7 separate regions of the Homo sapiens genome follow, and all the other regions are linked to region 2. The links come from fine-mapping of genetic effects on gene expression. A gene starts in region 2. Each other region holds a variant in brackets. All regions are shown on one strand. Distances are between the middles of the regions. Region 1 overlaps NEDD4 (NEDD4 E3 ubiquitin protein ligase). Region 2 holds the start of NEDD4 (NEDD4 E3 ubiquitin protein ligase). Region 3 overlaps NEDD4 (NEDD4 E3 ubiquitin protein ligase). Region 4 overlaps NEDD4 (NEDD4 E3 ubiquitin protein ligase). Region 5 overlaps NEDD4 (NEDD4 E3 ubiquitin protein ligase). Region 6 overlaps NEDD4 (NEDD4 E3 ubiquitin protein ligase). Region 7 has its middle 35 kb from the start of NEDD4.

Region 1 (4,069 bases), 49 kb before region 2:
ACTGGCAGCATTGTGCCCCTGCTCTAGAAATCTGTGGAACTTTGAACTTGAAAGAGATGATTTACGGTATCTGGCAGAAGAAATTTCTAAGCAGCAAAGTGTTCAAGAAGTGGCCTGGCTGCTTCTAACCATATGCTTATATGCATTCACAGAAATGATCTGAAACTGGAACTTATATTTAAAAGGAAAGCAGAGCATAAAAGTTGGGAATATGTGCAGCCTGATCATGTGGTAGAAAAGAAAGCCCCATTTTGTGGGGAGGAATTCAAGCCAGCTGCTGGAGCTGAATGTTCATAGCCAAGACAATGGGGAAGATGCCTTGAATGCATTTTAGAGATCTTTGTGGCAGCTCCTCCTATCACAGCCCCAGAGGACTAGAAGGGAAGAATGATTTCATAGACCAGGCCCAGGGCCCTGCTGCCCTACACAACCTTGGGACACTGCTCTCTGAGTCCCAGCCACTCCAGCTCCAGCTGTGGGTAAAAGGGCCCAGATATGTCTCAGGCCGCTGCTCTAGAAGGTTCAAACCGTAAGTCTTGGTGGCTTTCACATGGTTTTAAGCCTGCAGGTGGGCACAGGGCAAGAGCTGAGGCTTAGGAGCTCTTCCTAGATTTCAGAGGATGTATGGAAATGTGTCGATATCCACACAGAAGTCTGGATATTGCAGGGGCAGAGCCCTCATGGAGAACTTCTATTAGGGCAGTGTGGATGGGAAATGTGGGACTGGAGTCCCCACACAGGGTTCCCACTGGGACACTGCCTAGTGGAGCTGTGAGAAGTAGGCCACTATCGTCCAGACCCCAGAATGGGAGATTGACTAACCGCTTGCACTGTTTGCCTGCAAAACCCTTAGGCACTCAACACTAGCCTGTGAAAGCAGCTGAAGGGATTGTACCTTGCAGAGACACAGGGGTGGAGACACCCAAGGCCTTTCGGAACCCACCCCTTGCATCAGTGTGGCCTGGATGTGAGACACAGAGTCAAAGGAGATTATTTTGGAGCTTTAAGATGTAATGATTGGAAGATGGCCAAATAGGAACAGCTCCTGTCTGCAGCTCCCGGTATGATTGACGCAGAAGACGGGTGATTTCTACATTTCCACCTGAGGTGCCTGGTTCATCTCATTTGGACTGGCTGGACAGTGGGTGCAGCCCACAGAGGGCAAGCCGAAGCAGGATGGGGCATTGCCTCACCTCGGAAGTGCAAGGGGTCAGGGGATTTCCCTTTCCTAGCCAAAAGAAGCTGTGATAAACTGTACCTGGAAAAACAGGACACTTCTGGCCAAATACTGTGCTTTTCCCATGGTCTTATCAACTGGCAGACCAGGAGATTCTCTCCCATGCCTGGATTGGCGGGTACCATGCCCACAGAGCCTTGCTCACTGCTAGCGCAGCAGTCTGAGATCGACCTGCCAGTCTGCAGACTGGTGGGGTAAGGGGTGTCCACCATTGCTGAGGCTTGAGTAGGTAAACAAAGCAGCCGGGAAGCTGAAACTAGGCAGAGCCCACCTCAGCTCATCAAGGCCTACTGCCTATATAGACTCAACCTCTGTGAGCAGGGCATAGCTGAACAAAATGCAGCAGAAACTTCTACAGACTTAAATGTCCCTATCTGACAGCTCTGAAGAGAGCAGTGGTTCTCCCAGCATGGGATTTGAGCTCTGATAACAAGAGACTGCCACCTCAAGTGGGTCCCTGACCCCCGTGTAGCCTAACTGGGAGACACTTCCCAGTAGGGGCCAACAGACACCTCATACAGGCAGGTGCCCCTCTGGGACAAAGCTTCCAGAGGAAGGATGAGGCAGCAATATTTGCTGTTTTGCAATATTTGCTGTTCTGCAGCCTCCACTGGTGATACCCAAGCAAACAGGGTCTGGAGTGGACCTCCAGCAAAATCCAACAGATGTGCAGCTGAGGGAACTGAGTGTTAGACGGAAAACTAACAAACACAAAGGAATAGCATCAACATCAACAAAAAGGACATACACACCAAAACCCCATCTGTATGTCACGAACGTCAAAGATGAAAGGTAGATAAAACCACCAAGATGGGGAGAAACCAGAGCAGAAAAGCTGAAAATTCTAAAAACCAGAGCGCATCTTCTCCTCCAAAGGATCGCAGC[C/T]CCTCGCCAGCAACAGAACAAAGCTGGAAGGAGAATGACTTTGATGAGTTGACAGAAGTAGGCTTCAGAAGGTCGGTAAAAACAAACTTCTCCAAGCTAAAGAAGCATGTTCTAACCCATTGCAAGGAACCTAAAAACCTTGAAAAAAGGTTAGCCCAATGGCTAACTAGAATAAATAGTGTAGAGAAGACCTTAAATGACCTGATGGAGCTGAAAACCATGGCACAAGAACTTTGTGATACATGCACAAGCTTCAGTAGCTGATTCAATCAAGTGGAAGAAAGGCTATCACTGATTGAAGATGAAATTAATGAAATAAAGTGAGAATACAAGTTTAGAGAAAAAAGAATAAAAAGAAGCAAAGAAAGCCTCCAAGAAATATGGGACTATGTGAAAAGACCAACTCTATGTTTGGTGTAGCTGAAAGTGACAGGGAGAATGGAACCAAGGTGGAAAACACTCTACAGGATAATATCAAGGAGAACTTCCCCAACCTAGCAAGGCATGACAACATTCAAATTCAGGAAATACAGATAACACCACAAAGATATTCCTCGAGAAGAGCAACCCCAAGACACATAATTGTCAGATTCACCAACGTTGAAATGAAGGAAAAAATGTTAAGGGCGGCCACAGAGAAAGGTGAGGTTACCCACTAAGAGAAACCCATTAGACTAACAGCAAATCTCTCAGCAGAAACCTTACAAGCCAGAAGACAGTGGGGGCCAATATTCAACATTCTTAAAGAAAATAATTTTGAATGCAGAATTTCATATCCAGCCAAACTAAGCTTCATAAGAAAAGGAGAAATAAAACCCTTTATAGACAAGCTGAGAGATTTTGTCACCACCAGGCCTGCCTTACAAGAGCTCATGAAGGAAGCACTAAACATGGAAGGGAACAACCAGTACCAGCCACTGCAAAACCATGCCAAATTATAAAGATCATCGATGCTATGAAGAAACTCCATCAATTAACGAGCAAAATAACCAGTGAACATCATAATTACAGGATCAAATTCACACATAACAATATTAACCTTAAATGTAAATGGGCTAAATGCCCCCATTAAAAGACACAGACTGGCGAATTAGATAAAGAGTCAAGACCCATCAGTGTGCTGTATTCAGGAGACCCACCTCATGTGCAGAGACACACATAGGCTCATGAGAATAAAGGGATGGAGGAAGATCTATCAAGCAAATGGAAAACAAAAAAAGCAGGGGTTACAATCCTAGTCTCTGATAAAACAGACTTTCAACCAACAAAGACCAAAAGAGACAAAGAAAGCCATTACATAATGGTAAAGGGATCAATTCAACAAGAAGAGCTAACTATCCTAAATATATATGCACCCAATACAGAAGCACCCAGATTCATAAAGCAAGTCCTTAGAGACCTACAAAGAGACTTAGACTCCCACACAATAATAACGGGAGACTTTAACACCCCACTGTCAACATTAGACAGATCAATGAGACAGAAAGTTAACAAGGATATCCAGGAATTGAACTCAGCTCTGCACCAAGTGGACCAAACAGACATCTACAGAACTCTCCACCCCAAATCAACAGAATATACATCCTTCTCAGCACCACACCACACTTATTCCAAAATTGACCACATAGTTGGAAGTAAAGCACTCCTCAGCAAATGTAAAAGAACAGAAATTATAACAAACTGTCTCTCAGACCACAGTGCAATCAAACTAGAACTCAGGATTAAGAAACTCACTCAAAACTGCTCAACTACATAGAAACTGAACAACCTGCTCCTGAATGACTACTGGGTACATAACGAAATGAAGGCAGAAACAAAGATGTTCTTTGAAACCAATGAGAACAAAGACACAACATACCAGAATCTCTGGGACACATTTAAAGCAGTGTGTAGAGGGAAATTTATAGCACTAAATGCCCACAAGAGAAAGCAGGAAAGATCTAAAAT
Region 2 (4,069 bases):
GGGTGATGATTGAAAACAGAGAAATTACTAAAGTAGATAATTAAAAACACTGATCATGTACCAAGAGGGAGAAAACAGATGGTGAATGATACCTTTGGCACTATTTTCTTTAAGATCAACTGGCTCTGCTGGAAGGCGGTGAGATGAGAAATCTGCAATTAGCAGGGCCTACCTGTGAATATAGCAGGGAAAGAAAGTCCAAGGTCAGCCTGATTGGGTTGGACACCACCTTGAAGTCAACTGCACTGGGCAGTCTACGTAGCAAGCAGGGAAATCTGACTGATAAGAAAGCGACCACAGGTGAAGTGCTGTATTATCTTCTGATCTCGTCTACAGAATAAAGGTGCCATTAGCTAGAATGATATCTTTAGCTGTAACACATTGACTATTGTTTCTGAGGGACTATGAGCCGCCACCATTTGTCCATCATCACTTTATTTCTCTTCTGGCAGCAATAGCTAGGAAATTAAATTCTAATCGCATCACGTAAGCATTCTCAAAATATCCTGAAATAACTGCATTAACAAATTGCCCACCCTTTATAAACAAAGAACTCTCAAGAGAAGTGTAAAATGTTTGACGACACCAAGGTACTAAGAGAAGGAACTATACAACTTAAATATTACAATACTTAAGCAAGCAGTATAAATTAGGTTGATGGATTTTCAGTTAACTGGGTCTCATCTTGATAAAAGGTACATGTGGCAGCTTAGTCAGCCAACAAGAAAGCAAAAAACTTGATTTTTTTCACTCGGAACCAGTCACTGTTAGACTACATGCAGCCTTTTCATCTCCCACCCATTTGCATTTTTGAGACAATCTCCAAGAACACACAGAAGCCACATATCATTTACGACGGAACAACCTTTCCAAATGGTCGTACAATATTTTTAATAAGCATAGGCATAATCAGCATTAGTTATTTAGCTGAAAAGAAACAGCTTTGCCTTCTTCAAATCCCAGAGCTTAATCTAGTTTTCAAAGGGAACAGATGTGGTAACTTCTTTATAAAGTATTTATACTTTTTTGGCTTCACTTTTTAACATCAACGACGACCGGTGAAATAAAGCATGAACTTCTCACACTAGACACTTGTTGCTAAAGAGGAGGAGGAAAATTTATGTTCCTGCTCTCCCATCCCTGTCTCTAGTTAGGGGATTAAAAAGGATTTCAGATAAAGAAGAAAAAAACAAACCAGCGAATGACAATTCACTTGGAACTCTCCAGACCGAAGTCCGTAAAGTTAAGTCGGCCCGGCCTCCGCCAGAGCAAGCAAATCAACAGCGGGGATGCTGCGACCGTCTCCCAACGCCTGGGAGCTCCGCACACCCGGCGGGGGTGGCAGGAAGGGGCTGGCGCGGTGATGTGGGTCCCCCGCCGACCGCCTAGCCCCCTCCTCAACACTTCCTGAAGGAAACTGACAAGTAAGGCGGCGGCCGCTCCGGGAAGGGGCGGGTGTGGACCCGACAAGCTTGCTCCCTCCAGCGAGCCCCCAGCGCCCGCGCGCCGAGCCGCCCCCACAGTCCCCGCGGCGCCTCGCGCGCTCCCCAGGCTCGCGCCGAGGGAGGAGGGGCTGACAGCAGAGCCTCCGGTCGTGGCCGCCGCCGCTACCTCCCCGGGTCCGGCTGCTGAATAACCCGAAGGGAAGCCCGCCCCGCAGCCCCGCGGTCCCCGCACCTCGTCCTCCAGGAGCCCGAACACCTCCACCGCGCAAGTTGCCATTTCCGAACGCTTCCAGCAAACCGGACGCGCTCGCCCCCGCCCAGGGCAGGCAACTGTGGAGGAGGAGGAGGAGAAGCGGGAGGAGGCGGGGAAGAGTTGGAGGAAGAGGAGGAGGCGCTCCCTCAGCGACAGCAGCGCCTCCCGCGGCGAGCGGGCACTAGCGGCACCCGGCAGCGCGGCGGGAAAAGGCCGGCGGCGCGCGCTCCTGGGGCTGGGCGGGGGCGCGCGTGGCGGGGCTCGGGGAGTGGGGAGGGCGTGCGGCGGGGCTCGGGTGGGATGAGCGCGCGCGGCGGGGACCATGGCGTGGGGAGCGCGCGTGGCGGGGCGCGCCCTCGGTCCCTTCCCGGGAGGTGGGTGGTTGACGGGCCCGCCGGGGAGCCAGGGAGCGCCGGGAAGCGCCGGGAAGCCAAGCTGCAGTGTTCCTCAGCAACAAGTCTCGCTGAGATCCGACCCAGAGTTCGGCCTCTGACTAGACGCCTGGGAATCCGTGAGCTTAATCCCCGCTTAAATCCCAAACGGAAAATCATAGCGCTTTCTTGTCGGTTAAGGGTGTCATTCCCATAAGAAGCTGGACCTGGGGACCGCCAGGGAAAGCCTGAGCGTGGCAGCAAATGGGGAGGCCTGGAGGGATCGCAGCAGTCTTGGACTCGGGATCTGAAATTCTCTCCCTAGGATTTGTAAACAGTGCCAGTTCCTAAGCTATTTGTTGTCCTATGGTCTGTCCATCTTTAAATCCCACCAGTAACAATCCAATCTCCAGGCTGACCCTCTAAACCTGCTTTAGCTGGGCGTTGATCCGCAGCACCACCAGAAGGCAGTGACGAAGAGGGAAAAATAAAGTGAACTAGGACCTCCTGTAGAATAACTCCTCCTGTGGAATAACTCCTCCTGTGGAATAAGGTTATGGAATAATCATGCTTTTTAATATTCCTGTCTGATGGGCTTTATAATTCCATAATTACAGGAAGACCTCCACCAAATAAGGCATCCATAAAAGAGTCTGGGGAGAATTATGAACACCCAGGCCACAATTTATATCATGTTGTTTTTATACATTTGCAGAAATTTGCAGAATTCTGCAATCTCAAAATCTAATTTTTATTTTCCTCAATGATTTCAGAATAACTCTGATTTATTTTTAACAGTTTAAGATGCTACGTGGGAACAAGGCTATAGCCCATATTACTGGTTTGTTACGTAAGATTTTTCTCGTACTTGGCCGGGCGCGGTGGCTCACGCCTGTAATCCCAGCACTTTGGGAAACCTAAGGCGGTGAATCACCTTAGGTCAGGAGTTCGAGCCCAACCTGGCCAACATAGTAAAACCCTGTCTCTACTAAAAACACAAAAATTAGCTGGGCGTGGTGGCGGGCGCCTGGAGTCCCAGCTGCTTGGGTGGCTGAGGCAAGGGAATCGCTTGAGCTTGGGAGGAGGAGGTTACAGTGAGCCAAGATTGCGCCGTTGCACTCCAGCCTGGGCGACAGAACAAGACTCCACCTCAATTGTCGTACTTTATGATTGGTAGGATCCATTTCATTCATATAATATGTATCAAAATTCTGTTAATACACAATTCAGATTTTATCCGTATTAGGGGGAAAGAGATGGCACTTAATCAAACATGACTACAAAATTACAGAATGGTCAGGAATTGTTGGCTTACCTAAATCGAAAAAGCCATGAGAGCATTAATTTGTTTTTTAAGTTGTCACATATCTGTGGGATTTGTGGGTTAAGAATAAAATAATCTGAAAATATTGTGTGCCCTTCTATTTTGCGAATATTTCCCTCATCTCTCATGATACACATTTTTATGTTTAATTTTAAGTTAGTTAAGTCATTTGAATTTAAGTTAATTCAGTGTCATTTCAGGGCACAATTACAAACGTGTAAAAACAGCTTCCGTTACTGCTACTAAAATTTAATGAATATATGAGAAGTATACACAGCCTAAAACTGGTAATTAAAAAAAAAAAAATCAGTAAATCCCCAAGGGATTATAAAGTAAAGCAAATTGGCCATTTGATGTATCCAATAGGTATTAGTGATGATACTTCTAAAGACCACTGATTTGACTCATGATTTCTTATTCTGTCTTTCCGAATATGAAATCATGAAGAATTAAACAGCTACCAATACAAGATGAACTAGAGTAATTATTGTATCCCGGTCAACAGCTAGGAGGGGCACCTGAAATTAAAGGAAGCTCAAATCGGGATGGTGATATCAGCTGGTGGTCCAATAACCAACCACCACTGAGAAAGCTGTTTAGAATGAAGAACTCCTCTACATATCACTCAACTGCGCAGAACTCTCATGAAGGCGTTTTGTCTACCTAGGCTGCCTTC
Region 3 (4,069 bases), 36 kb before region 2:
TTGCATTTTCCGTAACCTTGTTTCTTAAAGAAGAAAAGTTTTAATTGTGTTGAAGTTCCTTTCAACATTTTTCTTTTATGGCTCATCCTTTTTGGTACTGTTCACGTAAACTTTGTGTAACCCAATAGAGCAAAGATTTTTTTCCTATGTGTTCCTATAGAAGTTTTATCATTTTAGCTCATACTAATTTTCTGTATGATGTGTGGTAAGGACCAAGATTCATTTCATTCTATACAGACCAGTTGTTCTAGTACTGTGTACTGAAAGACTACCCTTTCCCTTGAATTACCTCAGCATTTTTTGTTAAACAGGAGCTGATCATATATATGTGTATATATTCTCTCTCTCGCTCTCTCACACACACATGCGCATGTATTTTTACACTCTCCATTCCACTGAACAATATATCTATTCTCATGCCACTGCCACTCTGTCTTATTATAACTGTGTAGCAAGTCTTGAAATGGGGTAATGTAAGTCTTCCAATTTTGTTCTTTTTTGAAATTGTTTTGGCTATTCTATGTGCCTTGACTTTCCATACAAATATTGAAATCAGCTTATCAATTTCTCTGAAAAAACTTGCTGAGATTTTTATTGGGATTGTGCCAAATCTAATCAATTTGGAGAAAAATGCCACCCTAACACTATTGAGTCTTCTAATGAAAACAGCATATGTATCCATTGATTTATGTTGTCTTCGACTTCTCTCAGCACTGTTTTATAGTTTTCAGTGTCCATTTATTACAAATCTTTTGTTGTATTTATTTCTAAATATTTAACTTTTATACAATTGTAAACACGTTTTTAAATTGTATTTTCCAATGGCCCAATGATAGGATACAGAAATATAACTGATTTTGGGTTATACAAACACTGACTTTGCATTTTGTGGTGGTGTTAAATTCATTTATTAGTTCTTCCAGTAGTTTTTTCTGTAGATTCCTTGGGGCTTTCTACGTACAAACCATGTTGTCTGCAAATAAAGACAGTTTTACTTCTTCCTTTTTGACTGTGTGATTTTTTTTTCTTTGCCATACTACATGGCTAAAATATATAGTACAATGTTGGATAGAACATGAAAGCAGACAACTTTGCCTTATTCCTGAGTTAAGTAGAGGGGCTTCAAACTGCCACCATTAAGTAGGTGGTTAGCTACTGGGTTTTTTCATAGATACCCCTGATGAGGTTTAGGACATTTCCATCTATTCCTAGTTTGCAGAGAGTGTCTATTATGAATGGGTGTTGAATTTTGTCAGTTGTGTTTTCTGCTTTTATTAAGATGACTGTCTTCTCAGTGTGGCGATTCCTCAAGGATCTAGAACTAGAAATACCATTTGACCCAGCGATCCCATTACTGGGTATATACCCAAAGGATTATAAATCATGCTGCTATAAAGACACATGCACATGTATGTTTATTACGGCACTATTCACAATAGCAAAGACTTGGAACCAACCCAAATGTCCATCAATGATAGACTGGATTAAGAAAATGTGGCACATATATACCATGGAATACTATGCAGCCATAAAAAAGGATGAGTTCATGTCCTTTGCAGGGACATGGGTGAAGCTGGAAACCATCATTCTAAGCAAACTATCACACGGACAGAAAACCAAACACCGCATGTTCTCACTCATAGGTGGGAACTGAACAATAACACCTGGACACAGGGTGGGGAACATCACACACCAGGGCCTGTCGTGGAGTGGGGGAAGGGGTGAGGGATAGCATTAGGAGATATACCTAATGTAAACGATGAGTTGATGGGTGCAGCACACCAACATGGCATATGTATACATGTGTAACAAACCTGCACATTGTGCACATGTACCCTAGAACTTAACGTATAATAAAAAAAAGATGAC[TGTC/T]TTCTTTTATTCTATTAATACAGTGTATTACATCAGTTAATTTTCAGATGTTAAGCCACCTTTGTATTTTATGTTAGTTTGCTGAGAGGTTTTATCATGACTGGGTGTTACATTTTGTCAAAGGCACATTCCATGCCAAGTGAAATGACCATGTGTTTTTTCTACTTTACTGTATTAATACAGTGAATTGCATTAATTAATTTTTTTAATGTTGAACAAACCTTGCATTTGTAGGAAAAATCCTAAGTGGTGATATATTGCTACATAATGTTTAATTTCATTTTTGCATCTATGTTGACAGATATTGGTTTTAAGTTTTCTTGTGATGTCTGTGTCTGGTTTGGGGATCAAGATAATATTAGCCTAATAAAATGAGTTGGGAAATGCCCTCCATTTTCTGAACGTGTTTGTGTAGAATTTTTATTTTTTTTTCCCTAAATGTCTGATAGCTGCATCCAGTGATATCATGTGGGCCTGGAGTTTTCTTTGTGGGAAGGACAAATTCAATTTAATTAACAACAAATTCAATTTCTTTTAACAACAAATTCAATTTCTTTCAATAATAAACATCTATTAAAGTTTTGTATTTGTTCTGTGGCTAGTTCTGAAATCTGTGTCTTTCAAGAATATTATCTACTTCACTAAATTGTGTGTACTTCTTTACTGATACAAAATTGTACAAAATGTTTTCTTTTTATCTTTTTCATTTCCACAGGGTCTATAGCAATGCCCCAGTTTTCATTCTCATTACCAGTAATTAGTGCCTTCTCTCTAACTCTTGATCATTCTAGCTAGAGGTTTAAAACTTTAATTGATGTCTTCAAATAACAAGCTTTTGATTACAATAATTTTTTTTCTACCATTGTCCACTTTCTCTTTCACTGATTTTGGCCCTTGTCTTTATTATTTCTTCCCTCTACTTATTTTAGAATTCATTCGCTCTTCTTTTTCTAATTTATTAAGGTCAGAACTCAAAACATTCATTTATATCTTGCTCCTTTTCTAAGTTAAGCATTTTAAAGACATAAACTTCCCTCTGAATATAACTTTAGCTGCATTCCACAATTGTGATATTGCTGTATTTTCATTTTCATTCAGTTCAAAATGTTTTCTTCTTTGACATATAGATTATTTAGAAGTATACTAATTAAATTCCAAATATCTGCAGTTTTTCTAGATCTTAATATTATTGGTTTCCAATTGAATTCCACTGTTCTCAAAGAACATCCTCTATATGATTTCAATCTTTTGAAAACCTCTGAAACTTGTCCTATGGACCCACACATGGTCTATCTTGATTAACGTACCATGTGCATTTCAAAAGAATGTGGTTTATTGTTTCAAGGCCCGGAATATTGTGGCATCCAGACACTAGGGCAGCTCCTATTATCCCCACCTCCTAATATTCATGTTCTTTGTGTTCCTCTCCTCTTAAGCATGGGACAGATCTATATATTCTAACCAACAGATTATGGCAAATGTGACAAAAAGTATGTGATTACATTACATAAGATTGTAATCCATCTTGCTAGGAGACTCTTGCTAGCTTTGAAGAAGCAAACTGGCAGCTTGTGAGCTGCTGAATGGCAAGAAGCTGAGACGGCCTCCAGCTGACAGCTAGTAAGAAATGGAAACGCTCAGACTGGCAGCATGCAAGGAACTGAATGCCACCAGCAACCACATTAGCTTGGAAGTGAATCCTTCCCTAAGCAAGCCTCAGCTAAGACCACAGCCCTACCAATACCTTAATGACAGCTGAAGTGAATTCCTATAATTTTATGTTGCCTCAGCATCCATAATGAATGTTAAGTTGGACATTTTTATACCAGAAGCAGGTCTTAGTCACCCTTAGCACAGTTTCCAGTTCTCTACCTCCTCTCAGCTCCTCAATGTGGTCAATCCAGATAACTACCTTACACAACTGCCTCCTGGTAACCATCTCCCTAAGAAACAACCAGATTCAACCTACTTGACTTGCTCCACTGACCCCATACCCCCAAAGGACTGCAGAAATAAGCCACAGTAACCACCTCTCTGTGATGGGTAATATTGAGTGTCAACTTCATTAGACTGAAGGATGCAAAGTATTGTTCCTAGGTGTGTCTGTGAGGGTGTTGCCAAAGGAGATTAACATTTGAATCAGTGGACTGGGAGAGGCAGACACACCCTCAATCTGGGTGGGCACCATCTAATCAGC
Region 4 (4,069 bases), 58 kb before region 2:
CATGGATGAAGCTAGAAACCATCATTCTGAGCAAACTATCACAGGGACAGAAAACCAAACACCGCATGTTCTCACTCACAGGTGGGAATTGAATAATGAGAACACTTGGACACGGGAAGGGGAACATCACACACTGGGGCCTGTCGTGGGGTGGGGGGAGGGGGAAGGGGGAGGGATAGCATTAGGAGATGTACCTAATGCAAATGACGAGTTAATGGGTGCAGCACACCAACATGGCACATGTATACATATGTAACAAACCTGCACGTTGTGTACGTGTACCCTAGAACTTAAAGTATAAAAAAAAAAATCTGATGGCTTTATAAGGGGTTTTCCACCTCTTTCTTGACACTTCTACTTGCTGCTGCCATGTGAAGAGGGATGTGTTTGCTTCCCCTTCTATCATGATTGTAAGTTTTCTGAGGCCTTCTCAGCCATGCTAAACTGTGAGTCAATTAAAACTTTTTCCTTTATAAATTACACAGTCTTGGCTGGAGGCAGTGGTTCACACCTGTAATCCCAGCACTTTGGTAGGCCGAGGCAGGCAGGTCACCTGAGGTCAGGAGTTCGAGACCATTCTGGCCAACAGGGTGAAACCTCGTCTCTACTAAAAATACAAAATTAGCTGGGTGTGGTGGCACACGCCTGTAATCCCAGCTACTTGGGAGGCTGAGACAGGAGAACAGCTTGAACCCAGGAGGTGGAGGTTGCAGTGAGCCGAAATTGCGCCACTGCACTCCAGCCTGGGCAACAAGAGTGAAACTCTGTCTCAAAATAATAATAATAATGATAATTTAAAAAAATTACCCAGTCTCAGGCATATCTTATGAGCAGTGTGAGAATGGGCTAATACAGCTTCTTTCACTTAGTATAATGATTTCAAGGTTCATCCAAGTTGTAACTTGTATCAATACTTCATTCCTTTTTATTGATGAATGATATTTCATTATATGTGTATATCTCATTTTGTTATCAGTTGATGGACATTTGTGCTGTTTCTAATTTTTGACTATTATGAATAATGCTGCTACGAACATTGGTGCGCAAGTTTTCTGTGCATATATTTTAATAACACTGTAAAAGTGTAAAAAGTTAAGTGAATTAGACAAGTATTTTCATAAGCATAAAACAATATATGAATAGAAAGTATTCCGGCATTTTAATTTAAATGTTTTATGTCTTTCCACTTTATTTCTTTATGCAAATAGTTTAATCAATAAATATAAAAATAAACTGTAGATATACGGCCACGGAGAAAAAACCCAAACAGTAAAAAAGGATATATAGTAAATTATAAATCTCTGTCTTACCTTTGTCCCACCCCCAGAGCAAATACAGTAAACAGTTTCTTAGGTCCTTCCAGAATTATTTTCTAAAAATACCAGCATATAAGAAATTTTATTATTATTAAAATTTTATTTTATTAAAAATTTTTCTGGTTTTACACAAATAATATATTCCTATATACAATGTTCTGCTTTTTTTTTTTTTTTTTTTTTTTTTTGAAATGGAGTCTCACTCTATTGCCCAGGCTGGAGTGCAGTGGCACAATATCGGCTCACTGCAACCTCTGCCTCCCAGACTCAAGTGATTCTCCTGCCTCAGCCTCCCAAGTAGCTGTAATTAGAGGCACCCACCACCATGCCTGGCTAATTTTGCATTTTTAGTAGAGATGGGGTTTCACCATGTTGGCCAGACTGGTTTTGAACTCCTGGCCTCAGGTGATCCACCCTCCTCGGCCTCCCAAAGTAGTGGGATTACAGGCATGAGCCACCATGTCTGGCCTTGTTCTGCATTTTTCTTGCTTCATTTAGTATAATCTGAAATGAATTATCTATAACAACATATAAACCTGCCTCTTTTTAAACAGTAGATTAGGATTTCGTTGTATGAATGTATCATAATTTACTTACTGCTCCACTGATGGGGTGTCCTGCCTTCTTCCTAGCTAAAAGAATTATAATTTTATTCAAATATTGGGTGACTATGTCTGTCAGGGATAGACAGCAACTCCTCTCTCCCAGGGGCTGAATTTTGATTCCTCTAAGCCTTAGGGTAACACCATTTTCCTCACCAACAATGGGGTAGGAAATATGCACATTACACAATTCTGGCCCAAGAGAAAAAGATCCAAAGTCTTCTGGAAAAAGGTTTTTTACTTTTTTAAAGGGATACTCAGCAAAGGCTGGGCG[T/C]GGTGGCTCATGCCTGTAATCCTAGCACTTTGGGAGGCTGAGGCAGACGGATCATGAGGTCAGGAGATCGAGACCATCCTGGCTAACACAGTGAAACCCTGTCTCTACTAAAACTACAAAAAATTAGCCAAGCGTGGTGGCATGCGCCTGTAGTCCCAGCTACTCGGGAGGCTGCGGCAGGAGACTCATTTGAATCCGGGAGGCAGAGGTTGCAGTGAGTTGAGATCGTGCCACTACACTCCAGCCTGGCGACAGAGTGAGACTCTGTTTCAAAAAAAAAAAAAAAAAAAAGATACTCAGCAAAAAGCTCTCCCTTTTCAGCCTCTGGACATCATCATGTCTTTGGAACTGCTGTAAGTATCTGTGACCACAGAGAGAAAGCCAAGAGAATCCCAGAGAAGCTGGGTCAAGCATGACTTCTTTCACCTGCTGCAATGACCAACCTTCTTCTATGCTTCTTATGATTAAAGCTAATCAGTGTGCTTATTGTGAAGGCAGTTTTCATTGCTACTTCAAGTCTATAACTTGAAGCTAAAAGCATCCTAAATGATACACTTTGTCAGAGGGGTCCCTCCTAAACCTCCTAGACTAAGTGATCCCCCAACCCTGTATTTACTCTCCGGTATCATTGTTTTCCCTTCCATAAAGCTCAGCACACTGGTAATAATTATGAGTTACCTGTTCACACTGGTCCATACTAGACAGTAAGTTTCATTGAGGGTAGGTACTGTGGCCATCTCATTAACAATCATAGCAAAGTGCCTGAGAAATAGGTATAGAAAAAAATCACGCCAAATTTGTGTGCGTATGTAGGTAAGTTTTTTCCCCCTATCCATAAAAATACAAAAGAAAAAAAAACACATAGGAAATCCCAGAAAAGCATATTATCAGTGGTGGTTTATCGAGATGAAATTATGGCTGATTTTCATTTCTCTTTATTAAAAAAACTATCTTGCATAAGTTATATTACTTCTATAACATAATATAAACATACACTTGCATATATATACATTACATAAATCTAATATATTGAGTATGAATGCTAAAAATATACACAGAGCACCTGCAGAATGTAGGAAATGGGGTGAGGCTTTTTCAGATGCCCAAGCACAATTCTTATGCACAGAGTAAATAACATGTGCATTGCACCTAATGTGTTGCACTTTTTTCCCTCTAAGCATGTAAAGTGTAGATTTTAATTATAATTTGCTATTTCTTTTCTTTTTTTTTTTTTTGAGACAGAGTTTCACTCTTGTCACCCAGGCTGGAGCACAATGGTGTGAACTCGGCTCACTGCAACCTCTGCCTCCCAGGTTCAAGTGATTCTCCTGCCTCACCCTCTTGAGTAGTTGGGATTACAGGCATGCGCCATGATGCCCAGCTGATTTTTGTATTTTTAGCAGAGATGAGGTTTCACCATATTGGCCGGGCTGGTCTTGAACTCCTGACCTCAGGCAATCCACCCTCCTCGGCCTCCCAAAGCACTGGGAAAACAGGCATGAGCCACCGTGCCTGGCCATAATTTGCTATTGAGCACTAACTTCAACTTGGAGTTTCCCGTTTGTGTTGTCAATAACAGTTTTTCACAAAAACTTTTTTTGAACTTCATGTTTTCTCAAAGATATAAAACTGCCTTCAACTTCTGACCACAATTTCCATTTGGCCGAATGCCCAAGAACCAAGTTTTTGCTGTAATATGTTATCTCAACAGACATTTTTATGGCGAATACATTCAGTTCAAAACATTCTGGGCTATATAAAAATGATGATATAAATGACAAAGAGGAAAATAGAGGACCACACATAATAATGTCCTTTGCACAGAAGATATTTCACCGTATGTTTTCAGTTTTTTTCTAAGCATAATGAATTAGCAT
Region 5 (4,069 bases), 170 kb before region 2:
TTTGCCTTTATAATAATTGATTATTTTTCAGAAGAGAACTTAAGTCAGGACCTAAATAATGAATAGAGTATAACTCATGAGCCTATAGTTATGGCTTTAATCTTTGGTTAATTTCACCAGGAGAAAAAACTTTGTTCCAGGGTCATGTGATTGCACAGGAACTTTCATTTACTTGGGCGTTTGGAGGCCCTCCCTTGCACATCTCTCCAGAGATTTAAAGCAGTTCTAAACACATCTGCAGAGAATGTTCAGCAGCTCTGGGCTGTGAACTGCTTTCTTCCCATCATGGCTGTAGTCTGATTTGGACCCACCTTATAATCCTGACCATGATTTCACTGGAAAGACACCAACCTTCCCAATAAAAGGAGCAATTATGGCTTTTCATTTCTGCTTGTATAAGAAGCAAGATTGTAAGGATGAGTTGAATATAATTTCAGGCCAATGCAACCTTCTGGTATTGAGAAAAATATGAATTGATGGCTCATCTGAGAGTAGTGACTTGTGAATTTATAGCTGCTGAAGTGGAATCTTACCGGCTGTTGTTAGCATTAGTTTATTTAGCTGGCCTTTCATTGACAAAGAGTGGAAAAATGAACGCACATTATAAAATTAGATATACATAAGTGTTTTTCAAGGTGAACCTCCATAATCTTTAACTTTTCTATCCTTAGCCTTTATGTTGTGTGGAAGGCAGGATTTTCTAGTAATGATCTAGGAAATATCTCATCCTCCTAATCTATGCTGTTTATGAACGTGATAAGATCTTGGTCCCATGACTGTGTTCTGCGCCTATGGTACAATTTTCTTTTTTTCTCTGAGATGGTTTTTTCGTGTTTTTTTTTTTTTTTGAGTTGGAGTTTCGCTCTGGTCACCCAGGCTGGAGTGCAGTGGCACGATCTTGGCTCATTGCAACTTCCGCCTCCCGGGTTCAAGTGATTCTCCTGCCTCAGCCTCCCAAGTAGCTGGGATTACAGGCACGCGCCACCACGCCTGGCTAATTTTTGTATTTTTAGTAGAGACAGGGTTTCGCCATGTTGGTCAGGCTGGTCTCAAACTCCTGACCTCAGGTGATCTGCCTGCTTTGGCCTCCCAAAGTATTGGGATTACAGGCGTGAGTCACTGCACCTGGCCAGTACAGTCAATTTCCAAAAAGGAAGACTATTCAGGTGGGCCTGATCTATTCAAATAAATCTTGGAACACAGAGAACTTTCTCCGTCTGGTGGCAGAAAAGGGCAGCTGAATGGGAAATCAGAGATTAGAAGCATGAGAGGCATTGTTGGCTTGAAGAGGGAGAGAGGGCCAATCCATGAGGAATGTGGGTGACATCTGAAAGTTAAGAGTGCCCCCCAGCTGCCATCCAGCAAGAAAACAAGGACTTCAGACCTGCAGCTACTGGGAACTGGATTCTGCCAATAATCGGAAAGATCTTGGATGCAGGCAAGAGCCCAGACACCATGATTTTGGCTTTGTGAGACCCTGAGCAGAGAACCCTAAGCTAAGACCATGTACACTTGTGACCTACAGAAATCTGAGATAATAAATGGGTATTGTTTTTAGCTGCTAAGTTTATGGCAATTTGTTGTGCAGCCCAAGAAAACGGATACATCTTGGTAATTTGTTGGATTCCATAGCTTTTCTTTGTTGTGGTTCATAAATCCACTGAGTTTACAAGCTGTGTGGCCTTAGGTGTATTACTTGTCCTTGAGCCTATAAAACCTGTCTCACTGAGTTTTTATGAAGATTAAATGAGATCCACATAAAGTGTTTACTGCAGAATCCAGCACTCAGCAGGATCTCAATCAAGCTCCCTCTCTGCTTGAATATTTACGTAGTCCCCAATGTCCACCTAA[C/A]TACAGAGCTCCTGCACATTATTGCAGTTCCAGGCACACCATGCTCCTAAATGGATTCTATACACAAACAGTACTTTTAAGCTCAAATTCGTCAAATATTTGCATTGGGAAATGAACATATGAAAAAGATGGATACATAATTGTCTTTGTCCTCAAACTGCCCAGAAGTCTGTAGGACAGAATTATGTAAACAAAGAATTGTAATGCAGTGTCATCCGCACTAGTATATACCAACTGCTGAGGCCACAGCACCGTTCCACTGTGTCCAGAAAGTGGAGTGACTTACCAAGTAGACATGAGAAGTGAAAGCATTCAGGTGGCACCGGAGTCTGCAGTGATTAGGGGCTGGAAGGACTCTGATTTGGAGGGGAACCAAGGGCACCTGAGTGAGGTATGATGGAAGGTGGAATTGAGACCTTAGGCTGAGGATGGACTGCATTCCATGCGAACCTCCATGCTAACGGGTTTGTGCTTCATGCTTTTGGCTCTGGGGAGCTCTCAGGTTTTTTGGCGGTACAGTAACCTGATCAAATCTGTGTGCTAAAAAGGAAACACTGATTGTGATGGAGGGACTGCATAGGATGCATTGCAGGGGAAGAGATGAGCGGAACAGAAAGAGGAGGCTAGTGTGATAGGCTTTAACTTTCAAGGAAAAAGACAAAAATCTACTAAGTCTCTTTCTTCATAATGAGGTACTGACATTCTAATACCTTAGTTTAATATCATTTATAAAATAAATGTCTGCCGTGATGGACAGCAAAGCAAGGACTTCTTGTACAGGTGGGGCATGCTGTGGGCTAGCTGCTGCCCGAGTTGGCTAGAACAGGAAACGTGGAAGCAGAGGGCCATGGCCTAGGTCCCCAAAATTAAAAGCTATGGCCTGGATTATGGCAGAAACAGGGGGCTGGAACAGCACCTTCCCAGGCTGGCTTGAGTGGGTGGGAGTGGATTCCCTTCTAACTGGGAAACTAATTCTCATGCCTGAGAGGAAGGAGGAAAAGACACTTCGTTCTGAATTAACACTCCGAACTCTTTTTCTCATAGAAATGATGTTGTAAATAGTGGTTGGCTACAAGAATGGCTTCTTTGATGAGCAGCAAGGTGCCTGAAATCCAGTCCATTTTTAGCTATTATTTTTATCTTCTGGCTATTTCACTAACAACCAGACTTATGCAATACGACCTTTTTGTAAAGTGGAAATTAATTATCTGTGGTTGAGAGTTTATAATCATGTTAGTTCATCAGGTAATAAGTTTAGGATTGCACTGAAAATTTAACGTGCTGCTGTGAGGAACTAGACCAGAAGACATCACCCAGCATACTGACTTGGAAACACTCCTATTTTATAATGAACCACAGTTTTGTTTTGTTTTTTAAAATCAGAATAGAACTTTATTTGTGGATTCAAGATTTTAAAAAATGATTTTACACTTTAAAGTGTGCAATAAATTTTGATACATCAATCTTGATATATATATTTACTGTGTCAGAAGATTTTAAAAAGTCAAATAGTTTATAATCAAAATGAATTGTGTTTAACTTGATACTTATATGGAATAACTTCAGCATTATAAATAAAAACCCAAAACAAACACCATTTAAATTTGAGTTCTGATGAAATGCATTTGTAATACAATTTTGTTAAAAATTTTTAATAAGAGATTGTAGGCTAAAGTTATATGCTTGTAATTTCTAGAAACATATGATGTCCTTGCTTTATGAAAATGATCCTACTGACTGTCCCGCAGTAGAATGCATTTGAGACACTTTTCTATCTGGGATAAGGGGCTGTGTTGCTTGATAGATGTTTCTTCCAGACCACGAGCCCCTAGTGGGAGATGAAGGGGATGAAGGTCTGCAGCTGGGGACTGGTGGCAGTTGAGTCTGGTCTCATTTAACATCATGTTCTATGAGTCACAGAATCATCCAAATGAGTATCAGCCAGATACAAAGAAAGCTTTGTATTTTCTCATGCTTAGATAGTTCACAAACATAATATTTAAATAATTGTGGCAAAATCCTGTTTTAACAAAAATAATTTTCACATTCCATTCTACATAATGAGGACATTTCCAAAATGCATTGGCCCACATTACTATTACTTTGCTGATATGAAGAAAATGAATTATGATGGTAAGATCCATATACAGATATACACATGTGTATCCATATTATTTATATATTTAATATCAGAAATGTTCCTACTTCCTTGTCTCTT
Region 6 (4,069 bases), 68 kb before region 2:
ACATGGTGAAACCCCATCTCTACTAAAATTCACAAAAATTAGCCAGGTGTGGTGGTGAGCGCCTGTGGTCCCAGCTACTAGGGAGGCTAAGGCAGGGGAACTGCATGAACCCTGGAGGCGGAGGTTGCAGTGAGTTGAGACTGAGCCACTGTGCTCCCACCTGGCGACAAAGCGAGACTCCATCTCAAAAAAAAAAAAAAATATATATATATATAGCAAGTCAGTGATAGTCTTCTTTGGCAGCAATAATGTACTTTTGCTTAGTATGATGTTTATTAAAGATTTCATTGGCAATATCTTTAGTTGCCAGTATAATTACCATTTCTTGAGGGCAAAAAAAACATGAATGTAGTTTAACACTAAAAACAGACTTTTTTTTAAAAAAAAAGCTAGTTTCTCTGTTAGCTAAAAAATGAACAAAACTGTTTAATTTTTCTGGTGCTTGTAACTGATAAGCTTTGCACACATAACACTGTTTCTATACTTACCTGTTCAAATCTTACAGGTTTAAAATATAGATGTAAGATGCTAAGATGAGGGTTTGAGATTGGATCCTCAGAGACAAAATTAGGAAAAGGATAGGACTTTAAGAGAGTCTTTAGGAATTCAGAAATCAGAACAATCATTTTATAAAAAGAACATCAGGTTTAACTTTGCTTTTTGCTTCTGTAAGAGCTGGCCATCTTTGAGAAGACTTTATTTGCTCATTCCTTATCAGTGTAAAAAGGACAGATTTCCTCTGTAGAAGAGTGGGGATGAGAGAGTGGATAGGATGTCCATTGGATACAGGTAACCCTAAGAAAGGCCACTGTAGTGAGGAGGCGCAACTGAAGGATACCCTGGGAAGATTCCCAGAGCCATGGAGTAGGAACCAGGGGTCATGGGCGAGTGAGAGGGAAGGCAGGACAAAGAGGTTGGTTTTCTGTCCTCTCCTGTCACAAGAGGTCTTGAGTAAGACCTTATAATATGTTGGCAATCAGAAGAGGTGCTTGGGAGGAGAATGGAAAGGGAGCGAGTAGGACCAGGAGGAAGAAAACAAATTCTATCTCCCTCACCATTTTGCCCAGAGTCTCCATAACCACCCCCAAGCCATCACTCAAATCCCAGACTGCTTACCCACTTCCCCTGGCTGCTCCACTGAAATGTACCCTTACTTCATATTTCATATAAGCACAATATAACTTACCAATCGGTTTTCGTCAAACACTTCAAAAAGAAGCCGGTGCTGCTGAGGATGAACCTAAGAAAAACACAATCTTTATTTAAAAACAAGTAAACATCAACCCACAGATACTCAGAAATAAATGCTTAAAGATGCTGCCATTTGGTCGGGCATGGTGGCTCATGCCTGTAATCCCAGCACTTTGGGAGGCCGAGGTGGGTGGATCGCCTGATGTCAGGAGTTCGAGACGAGCCTGGCCAACATGGTGAAACCTCGTCTCTACTAAAAATACAAAAATGAGCCAGGTATGGTGGCATGTGCCTGTAGTCCCAGCTACTTGGGATGCTGAGGCAGGAAAATCGCTTCAACCTGGGAGGTGGTGACTGCAGTGAGCCAAGACTGTGCCATTGCACTCCAGCCTGGGCGACATAGAGAGACTCCATCTCAAGAAAAACAAAACAAAACAAACAAACAAAAAGAAGTTGCCATTTTCTAATTCCGATTATTTGGAATGCATTTTAAAATTACATGAAATAAGAGCAGACTAGTCATGTGTCACTCATTTTCTAGTAGTTTCACAACAACAACAAAGTGAATCTGGTTGTTTATTTTTCAGATTTTTCTAACAGAACGAAAGGAAGTAAAAGAAAATTTCAAAAGATTACTTAAATGTTTGCAAACGCTTATAAATACAGATTAGATTTTGACACCTTATGATCA[G/A]TTTTATTTACTTGCTTTTTATTAATCAGTTTAGAGCCACCCAAAGTGGACATTTTTCAGAAACTAGTGTTGTGAATCCTTTTATTATTGACTTAATAAAATTACATGTTGCTTTTACTATATAAAGTACATAGCAGTCAAAAGTATACACTGCGTTTTCACTTAAGGTTTAAGCTTTGTAGCACATGAATAAAAATTACAAGCAATATTTTGTTTTTCAAAGCCAATGCTTTCATTCTTGTGGGAATGTTTCGATATCAAAATAAAAATCGCCTACTATATATATTATATTGAACACTGTGATATCTTAAAACATTGGTGTACATGTCAAAACTATTGATAGAAAAAAGTCCTATGCTTGTGACAAAGATATCTAGATACCTAACTCAGTGTCTACTTTTCCCTCTGAGAACATAATCCTAGTTTTACCTACAGCCACGTTCCCAGGCTCATCACACTGCACACCTCTTGAGGAAACCACTAATTTTTGAAAACTGAAGTACAACACATATTCAATGAAGTATAAAGTATACTAATGTTGGGATGAGGAAGAAAAAAGTATACTAATCTTAACTATATAGCTTGATAACTTTTTACATATACATACTGTATCATACAGTATGTATATGTAAAAATACATATACATATGTATCATATACATATACAGTATGTAAAATACATATACGTATGTATCATATACATATACAGTATGTAAAATACATATACGTATGTAAAAATACATATACATACTGTACATGTATATGATACATACGTATATGTATCAAACCCAGATAAAGATATTGAATACTCTGTTCTATTCTATATATTGTTTTTTTGTGAATGGTGTCCTATGGAATTGTTTAACATGGAGACCCTGAATATGTCTATCTAGAAATGTATCCCTTGTACCTACGGGCAACCAATGAAGCCAACCTAGTGCCAGTCACTCCTCAGGAGAGCTTTTCAGAGGTGGCTGACTCAGCTGGGAGAGATGTCCCTTTTGCCCCTTGCATTTATCTTTCCTGTCTGAAATGTTGTTAGGATAGCTGGCACTCCTGCAGCCGTATTGTGACCATGGAGTAACTGAGGATAGACATGCCAAACATAAGGCTAGACAACATGGGGAGGGAAAAATAGTGTTAAGACGGCCGGATGTGCTGGTTCACACCTGTCATCCCAGCACTCCTAGGCTGAGGTGGGAGGATCACTTGAGCCCAGGAGTTGGAGACCAGCCTGGGCATCATAGGGAGACCATCTCTACAAAAATAACAAAAATTAGCTGGGCATCATGGCACATGCCTATAGTCCCAGCTACTCAGGAGGCTGAGGCACGAGAATCGTTTGAACCTGGGAGGCGGAGGTTGCAGTGAGCCGAGATCGTGCCACTGCACTCCAGCCTAGATAACAGAGTGCAAACCTGTCCCCTCCCCTCCACCACACCCCCCAAAAAAAGGGTGGGCATGGTGGCTCACGCCTGTAATCCCAGCACTTAAGGAGGTCAAGGAAGGCAGATCACTTGAGTTCAGGAGTCTGAAACCAGCCTGGCCAACAGGGTGAAACCCTGTCTCTACTAAAAATACAAAAGTTAGCTGGGTGTGGCGGCAGGCACCTGTAACCCCAGCTAGTTGGGAGGCTGAGGCAGGAGAATCGCTTGAACCTGGGGGACAGAGGTTGCAGTGAACCAAGATCGTGCCGCCGCACTGTCCAGCCTGGGCAACAGAGTGAGACTACGTCTCAAAAAAAAAAAAAAAAAAAAAAGAAAGAAAGAAAAAGAAAAACAGTGTAAGATGATTTTTTTTCAAAGAAGATGTAGAAGAACTTTTGAGGAGATGTAACTGAGCTAAGACTTGAAAGTTGGGAAGAATTTAAATGAGAAGGTATAGAGAACATGCACAGCAAGGTCACATGAGAAAAGAAGGCATGGGGGCAGAATGAGCGTGCTCTAAGGAAATGAGACAGACAAAGACGACAAGATTCTTTTTTTTTTGAGATAGAGTCTCACTCTGTCACCCAGGCTGGAATGCAGTGGTGCGATCACAGCTCAGTGCAACCAGGCTCAAGCAATCCTCCCACCTCAGCCTCCTGAGGGTCTACAGGCATGCACTACCATGCTCGGCTAATTTTTTAAAAATTTTTGCAGAGACAAGGTCTCACTGTGTTGCCTAGGCTGATCTTGAACTCCTGGGC
Region 7 (4,069 bases), 35 kb after region 2:
ACTATACATTTTTTATAACTATGTTTTACAAAGGCAAGCAATTTTCCTTCTATCCCAAGTTTGCCTAAGCTTTTTTTAAAACTTTGCCTAACTTGCCATCTTTAAATTTAGTAATTGGATTTAAATTTTTTTTTTTTGAGATGGAGTCTTGCTCTGTTGCCCAGGCTGGAGTGCAGTGGCGTGATCTCGGCTCACTGCAAGCTCTGCCTCCCAGGTTCATGCCATTCTCCTGCCTCAGCCTCCTGAGTAGCTGGTACTACAGGTGCCCGCCACCACGCCCGGCTAATGTTTTTTTGTATTTTTAGTAGAGATGGGGTTTCACTGGGTTAGCCAGAATGGTCTCGATCTCCTGACCTCGTGAGCCACCCGCCTTGGCCTCCCAAAGTGCTGGGATTATAGGTGTGAGCCACCGCACCTGGCCTAAAAAATATATTTTAAATATCCTTGAGAAATATCCCCCCCATCATTTGCTCATTTCCTATCAACCAAATCACAGACTGTTCAGTTGGCTAATAAGCATAGTACATCATTTCACTTGAGTCAATTAGTATTTTTTTCTGCATCTATAAGAGGATTATATTGTGCTTCTCCTTTAATCTGCTAATTTGGTAAACAACATTATTAGGTTCTCCTTGCATTCCTGATACAAACCCTATTTGATCTAGGGTAACTTATAATCATTTGTAATCACTCTCATAACACACATCTATTCTATTAAATCTCTTAGCAGATCCTATTGGCTCTTCCTTCCTTCAAAATATACTCTGCATCTGACAACTTCTAACCATCTCTGCTACCTGAATTTAAGTCATCATCCTCTGTTGCCTGGATTGAGTCACTGATCCCTTCCCAGTCTCTCTGCTTCCACACTTGCCTCTCTATAGTTGATTCTCAAATTGCAACTGTAATGATCCTTTAAAAATGTAAGTCTGATTATGCCCCTTCTCTACCTAAAACCTTCAGAAAAATTCCCATCTTCCTCCAAGTAAACACTACAGTCCTTTCAAGGGCCCACATCTCCTATAGCTCTTCCTGCTCCTGCTCACTCCAGGCACACTCCCACCTCAGGGCCTTTGCACTTGTTCATTCCTCTGCCTCTGCCTGGGTAGTTCTTTCTCACAGATGTCGACGTATATCCCTATGTTGACATAGTTTTGTCTACATATGTACTAATAGATCTCCACATATATACATGTCTACATGTAGATTTTATGAATATACGTATCTACATATAAACACATCTATATATGTAAACCTACACACATATGTCTACATATACCCCTCAATTCCCAGGTCTTTGCTCAAACATCACTTTCTGCATATTTCTGATAACACTATGTAAAACTACAGTCATGTTCCTCTGTTCCTTTACCTCCTTCCCTGCCTTATTTTTCTCCATAGCAGTGATTGCCATCTGACATACTGTGTATTTTGCTTATTTGTTTGTTGTGTTGATCCCTAGTTTGAATATTATCAGTAACTTTAAGGTGGCAGAGATGTTTGCCTGTTTTCTCCATTATATCCCTGGTATTTGTAACAGTGCCTGGCACAACCCAGTTACTCAGTAAATAATGAATGAATGAAGCGACTA[T/C]TGTTTGATGCTCTGTTGGCCTCAAAATCTGCCTCCATCCCTCCTCATTGCTGGGTTCAGTTTATTAATATTTTATTTAGGATTTGGGGAGCTGTGTTTCTTACTGTGACTGGCTTATTGATTGAACATATTTTGTTTTGTTTTTTTTTCCTCATTTCCCCTCAACTGTTTAGGAAGTTATACATCTTATTTTTGTTTTTGTTTTTGAGACAGAGTCTCACTCTGTTGCACAAACTGGAGTGCAGTGATGTGATGTTAGCCCACTGCAGCCTCGACCTCCCAGGCCCAAGTAATCCTCCCACCTCAGCCTTCTGAGTAGCTGGGACTATAGGCACATGCCACCATGCCCAGCTAATTATAAATCTTATTTTTATTCCTTTGATAGTTACCTTTAATACATTAACATGTATTATATACTTAAAATACAAAAGTAACCATTTTTCTACTCTCATTCAGAATAACACAAGGACCCTGATATCAGGCCCTCCCACTTCACATGTTCTGGTTGCTGGTAACGTTGGTTCTACCTTGTAGATTGCTGATGTGACTCACATCCAAGGAGTGTCCTAGAAATATTATAACGTAGACACATTCCTTGACTCTTCCTCTCCTTTCTGCATTCTTGCATACTTTCTCCACCTGAGTAGAGTTTCATCTGAATATGTACAATCTGGTTTTAATGCCTGTAAACACTTTGCTATCAATACCTACTGTCTATCACTTAGTGTCTTGAAAAAATCTTACTAGCCTAGTCACAATAACCAGTATGACTTACAGTGTTACACCACCCAGGAGTATTTACATTTCACACATATCATAAATGAGGAAGCTTTAATAGAATACTTATTTATCTTGTCAAGGGCTCTCTTGCCACTCCTAAAAATATGTGATATGAAGCCTGGACAACATAGACACCATATTGACAAAATAAAAAATAAAAAACAACTGGACATGGTGGCACTTGCCTGTAGTCATAACTATTTGGGAGGCTGAGGCAAGAGGATTGCTTGAGCCCAAGCATTTGAGGCTGCAGTGAGCTATGATCATGCCACTGTACTCCAGCCAAGGCAACAGAGTAAAATCCTGTAGAAAAAAAAAAAAAAAGACAGGTGTTGCTAACTTCTTTTACACAGTGTTTTTGTTCCATCAATAAGAATCATGAAAAACTGATTTGACCTTCTCAAATTATTTTTCCCCTTTACTATTCTTACCCTTCACTGCTTTTCTCAGTAATATTCTTTCTGACATTTGCCAGCATTCAAAATATTCTCTATTATCTCTGCATTTGTAATACAATATGAAACCAATATATCTTGCCTTCTTAATTAATGTTGATATGAATTGTGTCAAACCTGCAAATATTTAATTCCAAACAGCTGAGCAGCAGCAGATGCTTCATTTTTGTACAATAATGTTTAAATATCTAATGTCCTAATTTTTTAAAACATTGCTTAAATATTTTGAGAAAACTGACACAATCTTAAAACTGCCTAAGCTAATTAAAAATGACACAGTGCTTAAAACTACCTAAGTTAATGATTAAAATTTAGTATTATTTTACTTATACTTTTTCATGTAGCATAAGCTATCTATTGATCATGTAAAGAGCACCCTAATATGTATTTATTTGTTTCTTGCTTTGTTTTTTGAGAATGGGTCTTGCTATGTTGCTCAGGCTGGATTGCAGGGGCTATTTATTCACAGGCGTAATCCCACTACTGATCAGCACAGGAGTTTTGACTTGCTTCATTTCTGACTTTGACTGGTTCACCCCTCCTTAGACAACCTGGTGATTTCCCTATACCCGGGAGGTCACCATATGATACCAAACTTAGTGTAGACCTCCGGTTGGTATAGCCTCCTATAGCCTGGAACTCCTGGGCTCAGGTGATTCACCTCAGCTTCCAAGTAGCCGTGACTATAGGTGCATGCCACTGCACCCAGCAAGCTTCCTAATATTAATCTAGAATAGTTCATTTGATATTTTTCAGATTTTTTCATCCTTGTATTGTTTCCATATTTTCTCCATTATGAATCAGTAGCTCTGTGTGGTTAACTTTTTGTTCTGTATTGAATTATTCCCCTTGAACATGTTTTTGAAAGTGAGATTGTGAGAATAAAAAAGTTCTGAATGGTTTTATGACTTTTGGGGCGACCACATTGATGCCCAGTTCCAGGAGGCACCCTTCATATAGGATGCAGCATAAATGGTGCTCCCTGGAATTCTGCAACAGAGCTGCCTTGTTGCTCCTGTGTCTGCTTTTCTCAGTGCCAGAAAAGTCTCATCATTTACTGTTAACGATGCCTATCTCCCCATACACTTCAAAACAGTTCAGTTTTAGCATTTTGTTTACTTTTGCCAAATTATAAAGTGTATAGAAGTATGCAAGATTTTAATTTGCATTATTTAATTAGTAAGTATTGGAATGTCTTTTGGTTTACTTTTTTATGTTTTGAGCTGTTAAGACCCTTTAACAA

The links. PIP is the estimated chance that this variant, and not a neighbour inherited with it, causes the effect.
Region 1: its variant is the best candidate, but not a certain one, in a credible set for the expression of NEDD4 in whole blood (INTERVAL, PIP 0.55).
Region 3: its variant is the best candidate, but not a certain one, in a credible set for the expression of NEDD4 in whole blood (INTERVAL, PIP 0.52).
Region 4: its variant is the best candidate, but not a certain one, in a credible set for the expression of NEDD4 in monocytes (TOPMed, PIP 0.59).
Region 5: its variant is the best candidate, but not a certain one, in a credible set for the expression of NEDD4 in thyroid (GTEx, PIP 0.83).
Region 6: its variant is the best candidate, but not a certain one, in a credible set for the expression of NEDD4 in whole blood (INTERVAL, PIP 0.66).
Region 7: its variant is the best candidate, but not a certain one, in a credible set for the expression of NEDD4 in whole blood (INTERVAL, PIP 0.88).

The regions. Positions count from the first base shown.
Region 1 is chr15:55,943,001-55,947,069 of GRCh38, forward strand. All of the region lies in intron 4 of NEDD4 (NEDD4 E3 ubiquitin protein ligase), which reads right to left. Among named protein-coding and RNA genes, the nearest start is that of NEDD4, 49 kb to the right of the region's middle. The variant C/T (reference allele first, on the strand shown) is at 2,123.
Region 2 is chr15:55,991,834-55,995,902 of GRCh38, forward strand. It overlaps NEDD4 (NEDD4 E3 ubiquitin protein ligase), which reads right to left and starts at 1,779. Exons shown (of 29, transcript NM_006154.4): 1 at 1,678-1,779. The coding sequence starts at 1,722. RefSeq lists an enhancer at 1,027-1,809 and silencers at 1,312-1,661, 1,902-2,001, 2,788-2,985.
Region 3 is chr15:55,956,264-55,960,332 of GRCh38, forward strand. All of the region lies in intron 2 of NEDD4 (NEDD4 E3 ubiquitin protein ligase), which reads right to left. Among named protein-coding and RNA genes, the nearest start is that of NEDD4, 35 kb to the right of the region's middle. RefSeq lists a silencer at 1,607-1,784. The variant TGTC/T (reference allele first, on the strand shown) is at 1,870.
Region 4 is chr15:55,933,383-55,937,451 of GRCh38, forward strand. All of the region lies in intron 4 of NEDD4 (NEDD4 E3 ubiquitin protein ligase), which reads right to left. Among named protein-coding and RNA genes, the nearest start is that of NEDD4, 58 kb to the right of the region's middle. The variant T/C (reference allele first, on the strand shown) is at 2,193.
Region 5 is chr15:55,823,707-55,827,775 of GRCh38, forward strand. It overlaps NEDD4 (NEDD4 E3 ubiquitin protein ligase), which reads right to left. Exons shown (of 29, transcript NM_006154.4): 29 at 3,216-4,069. Among named protein-coding and RNA genes, the nearest start is that of PRTG, 83 kb to the left of the region's middle. The variant C/A (reference allele first, on the strand shown) is at 1,852.
Region 6 is chr15:55,923,460-55,927,528 of GRCh38, forward strand. NEDD4 (NEDD4 E3 ubiquitin protein ligase) reads right to left here. Exons shown (of 29, transcript NM_006154.4): 5 at 1,187-1,240. Among named protein-coding and RNA genes, the nearest start is that of NEDD4, 68 kb to the right of the region's middle. The variant G/A (reference allele first, on the strand shown) is at 1,883.
Region 7 is chr15:56,026,446-56,030,514 of GRCh38, forward strand. It overlaps the pseudogene RN7SL568P. Among named protein-coding and RNA genes, the nearest start is that of NEDD4, 35 kb to the left of the region's middle. The variant T/C (reference allele first, on the strand shown) is at 1,592.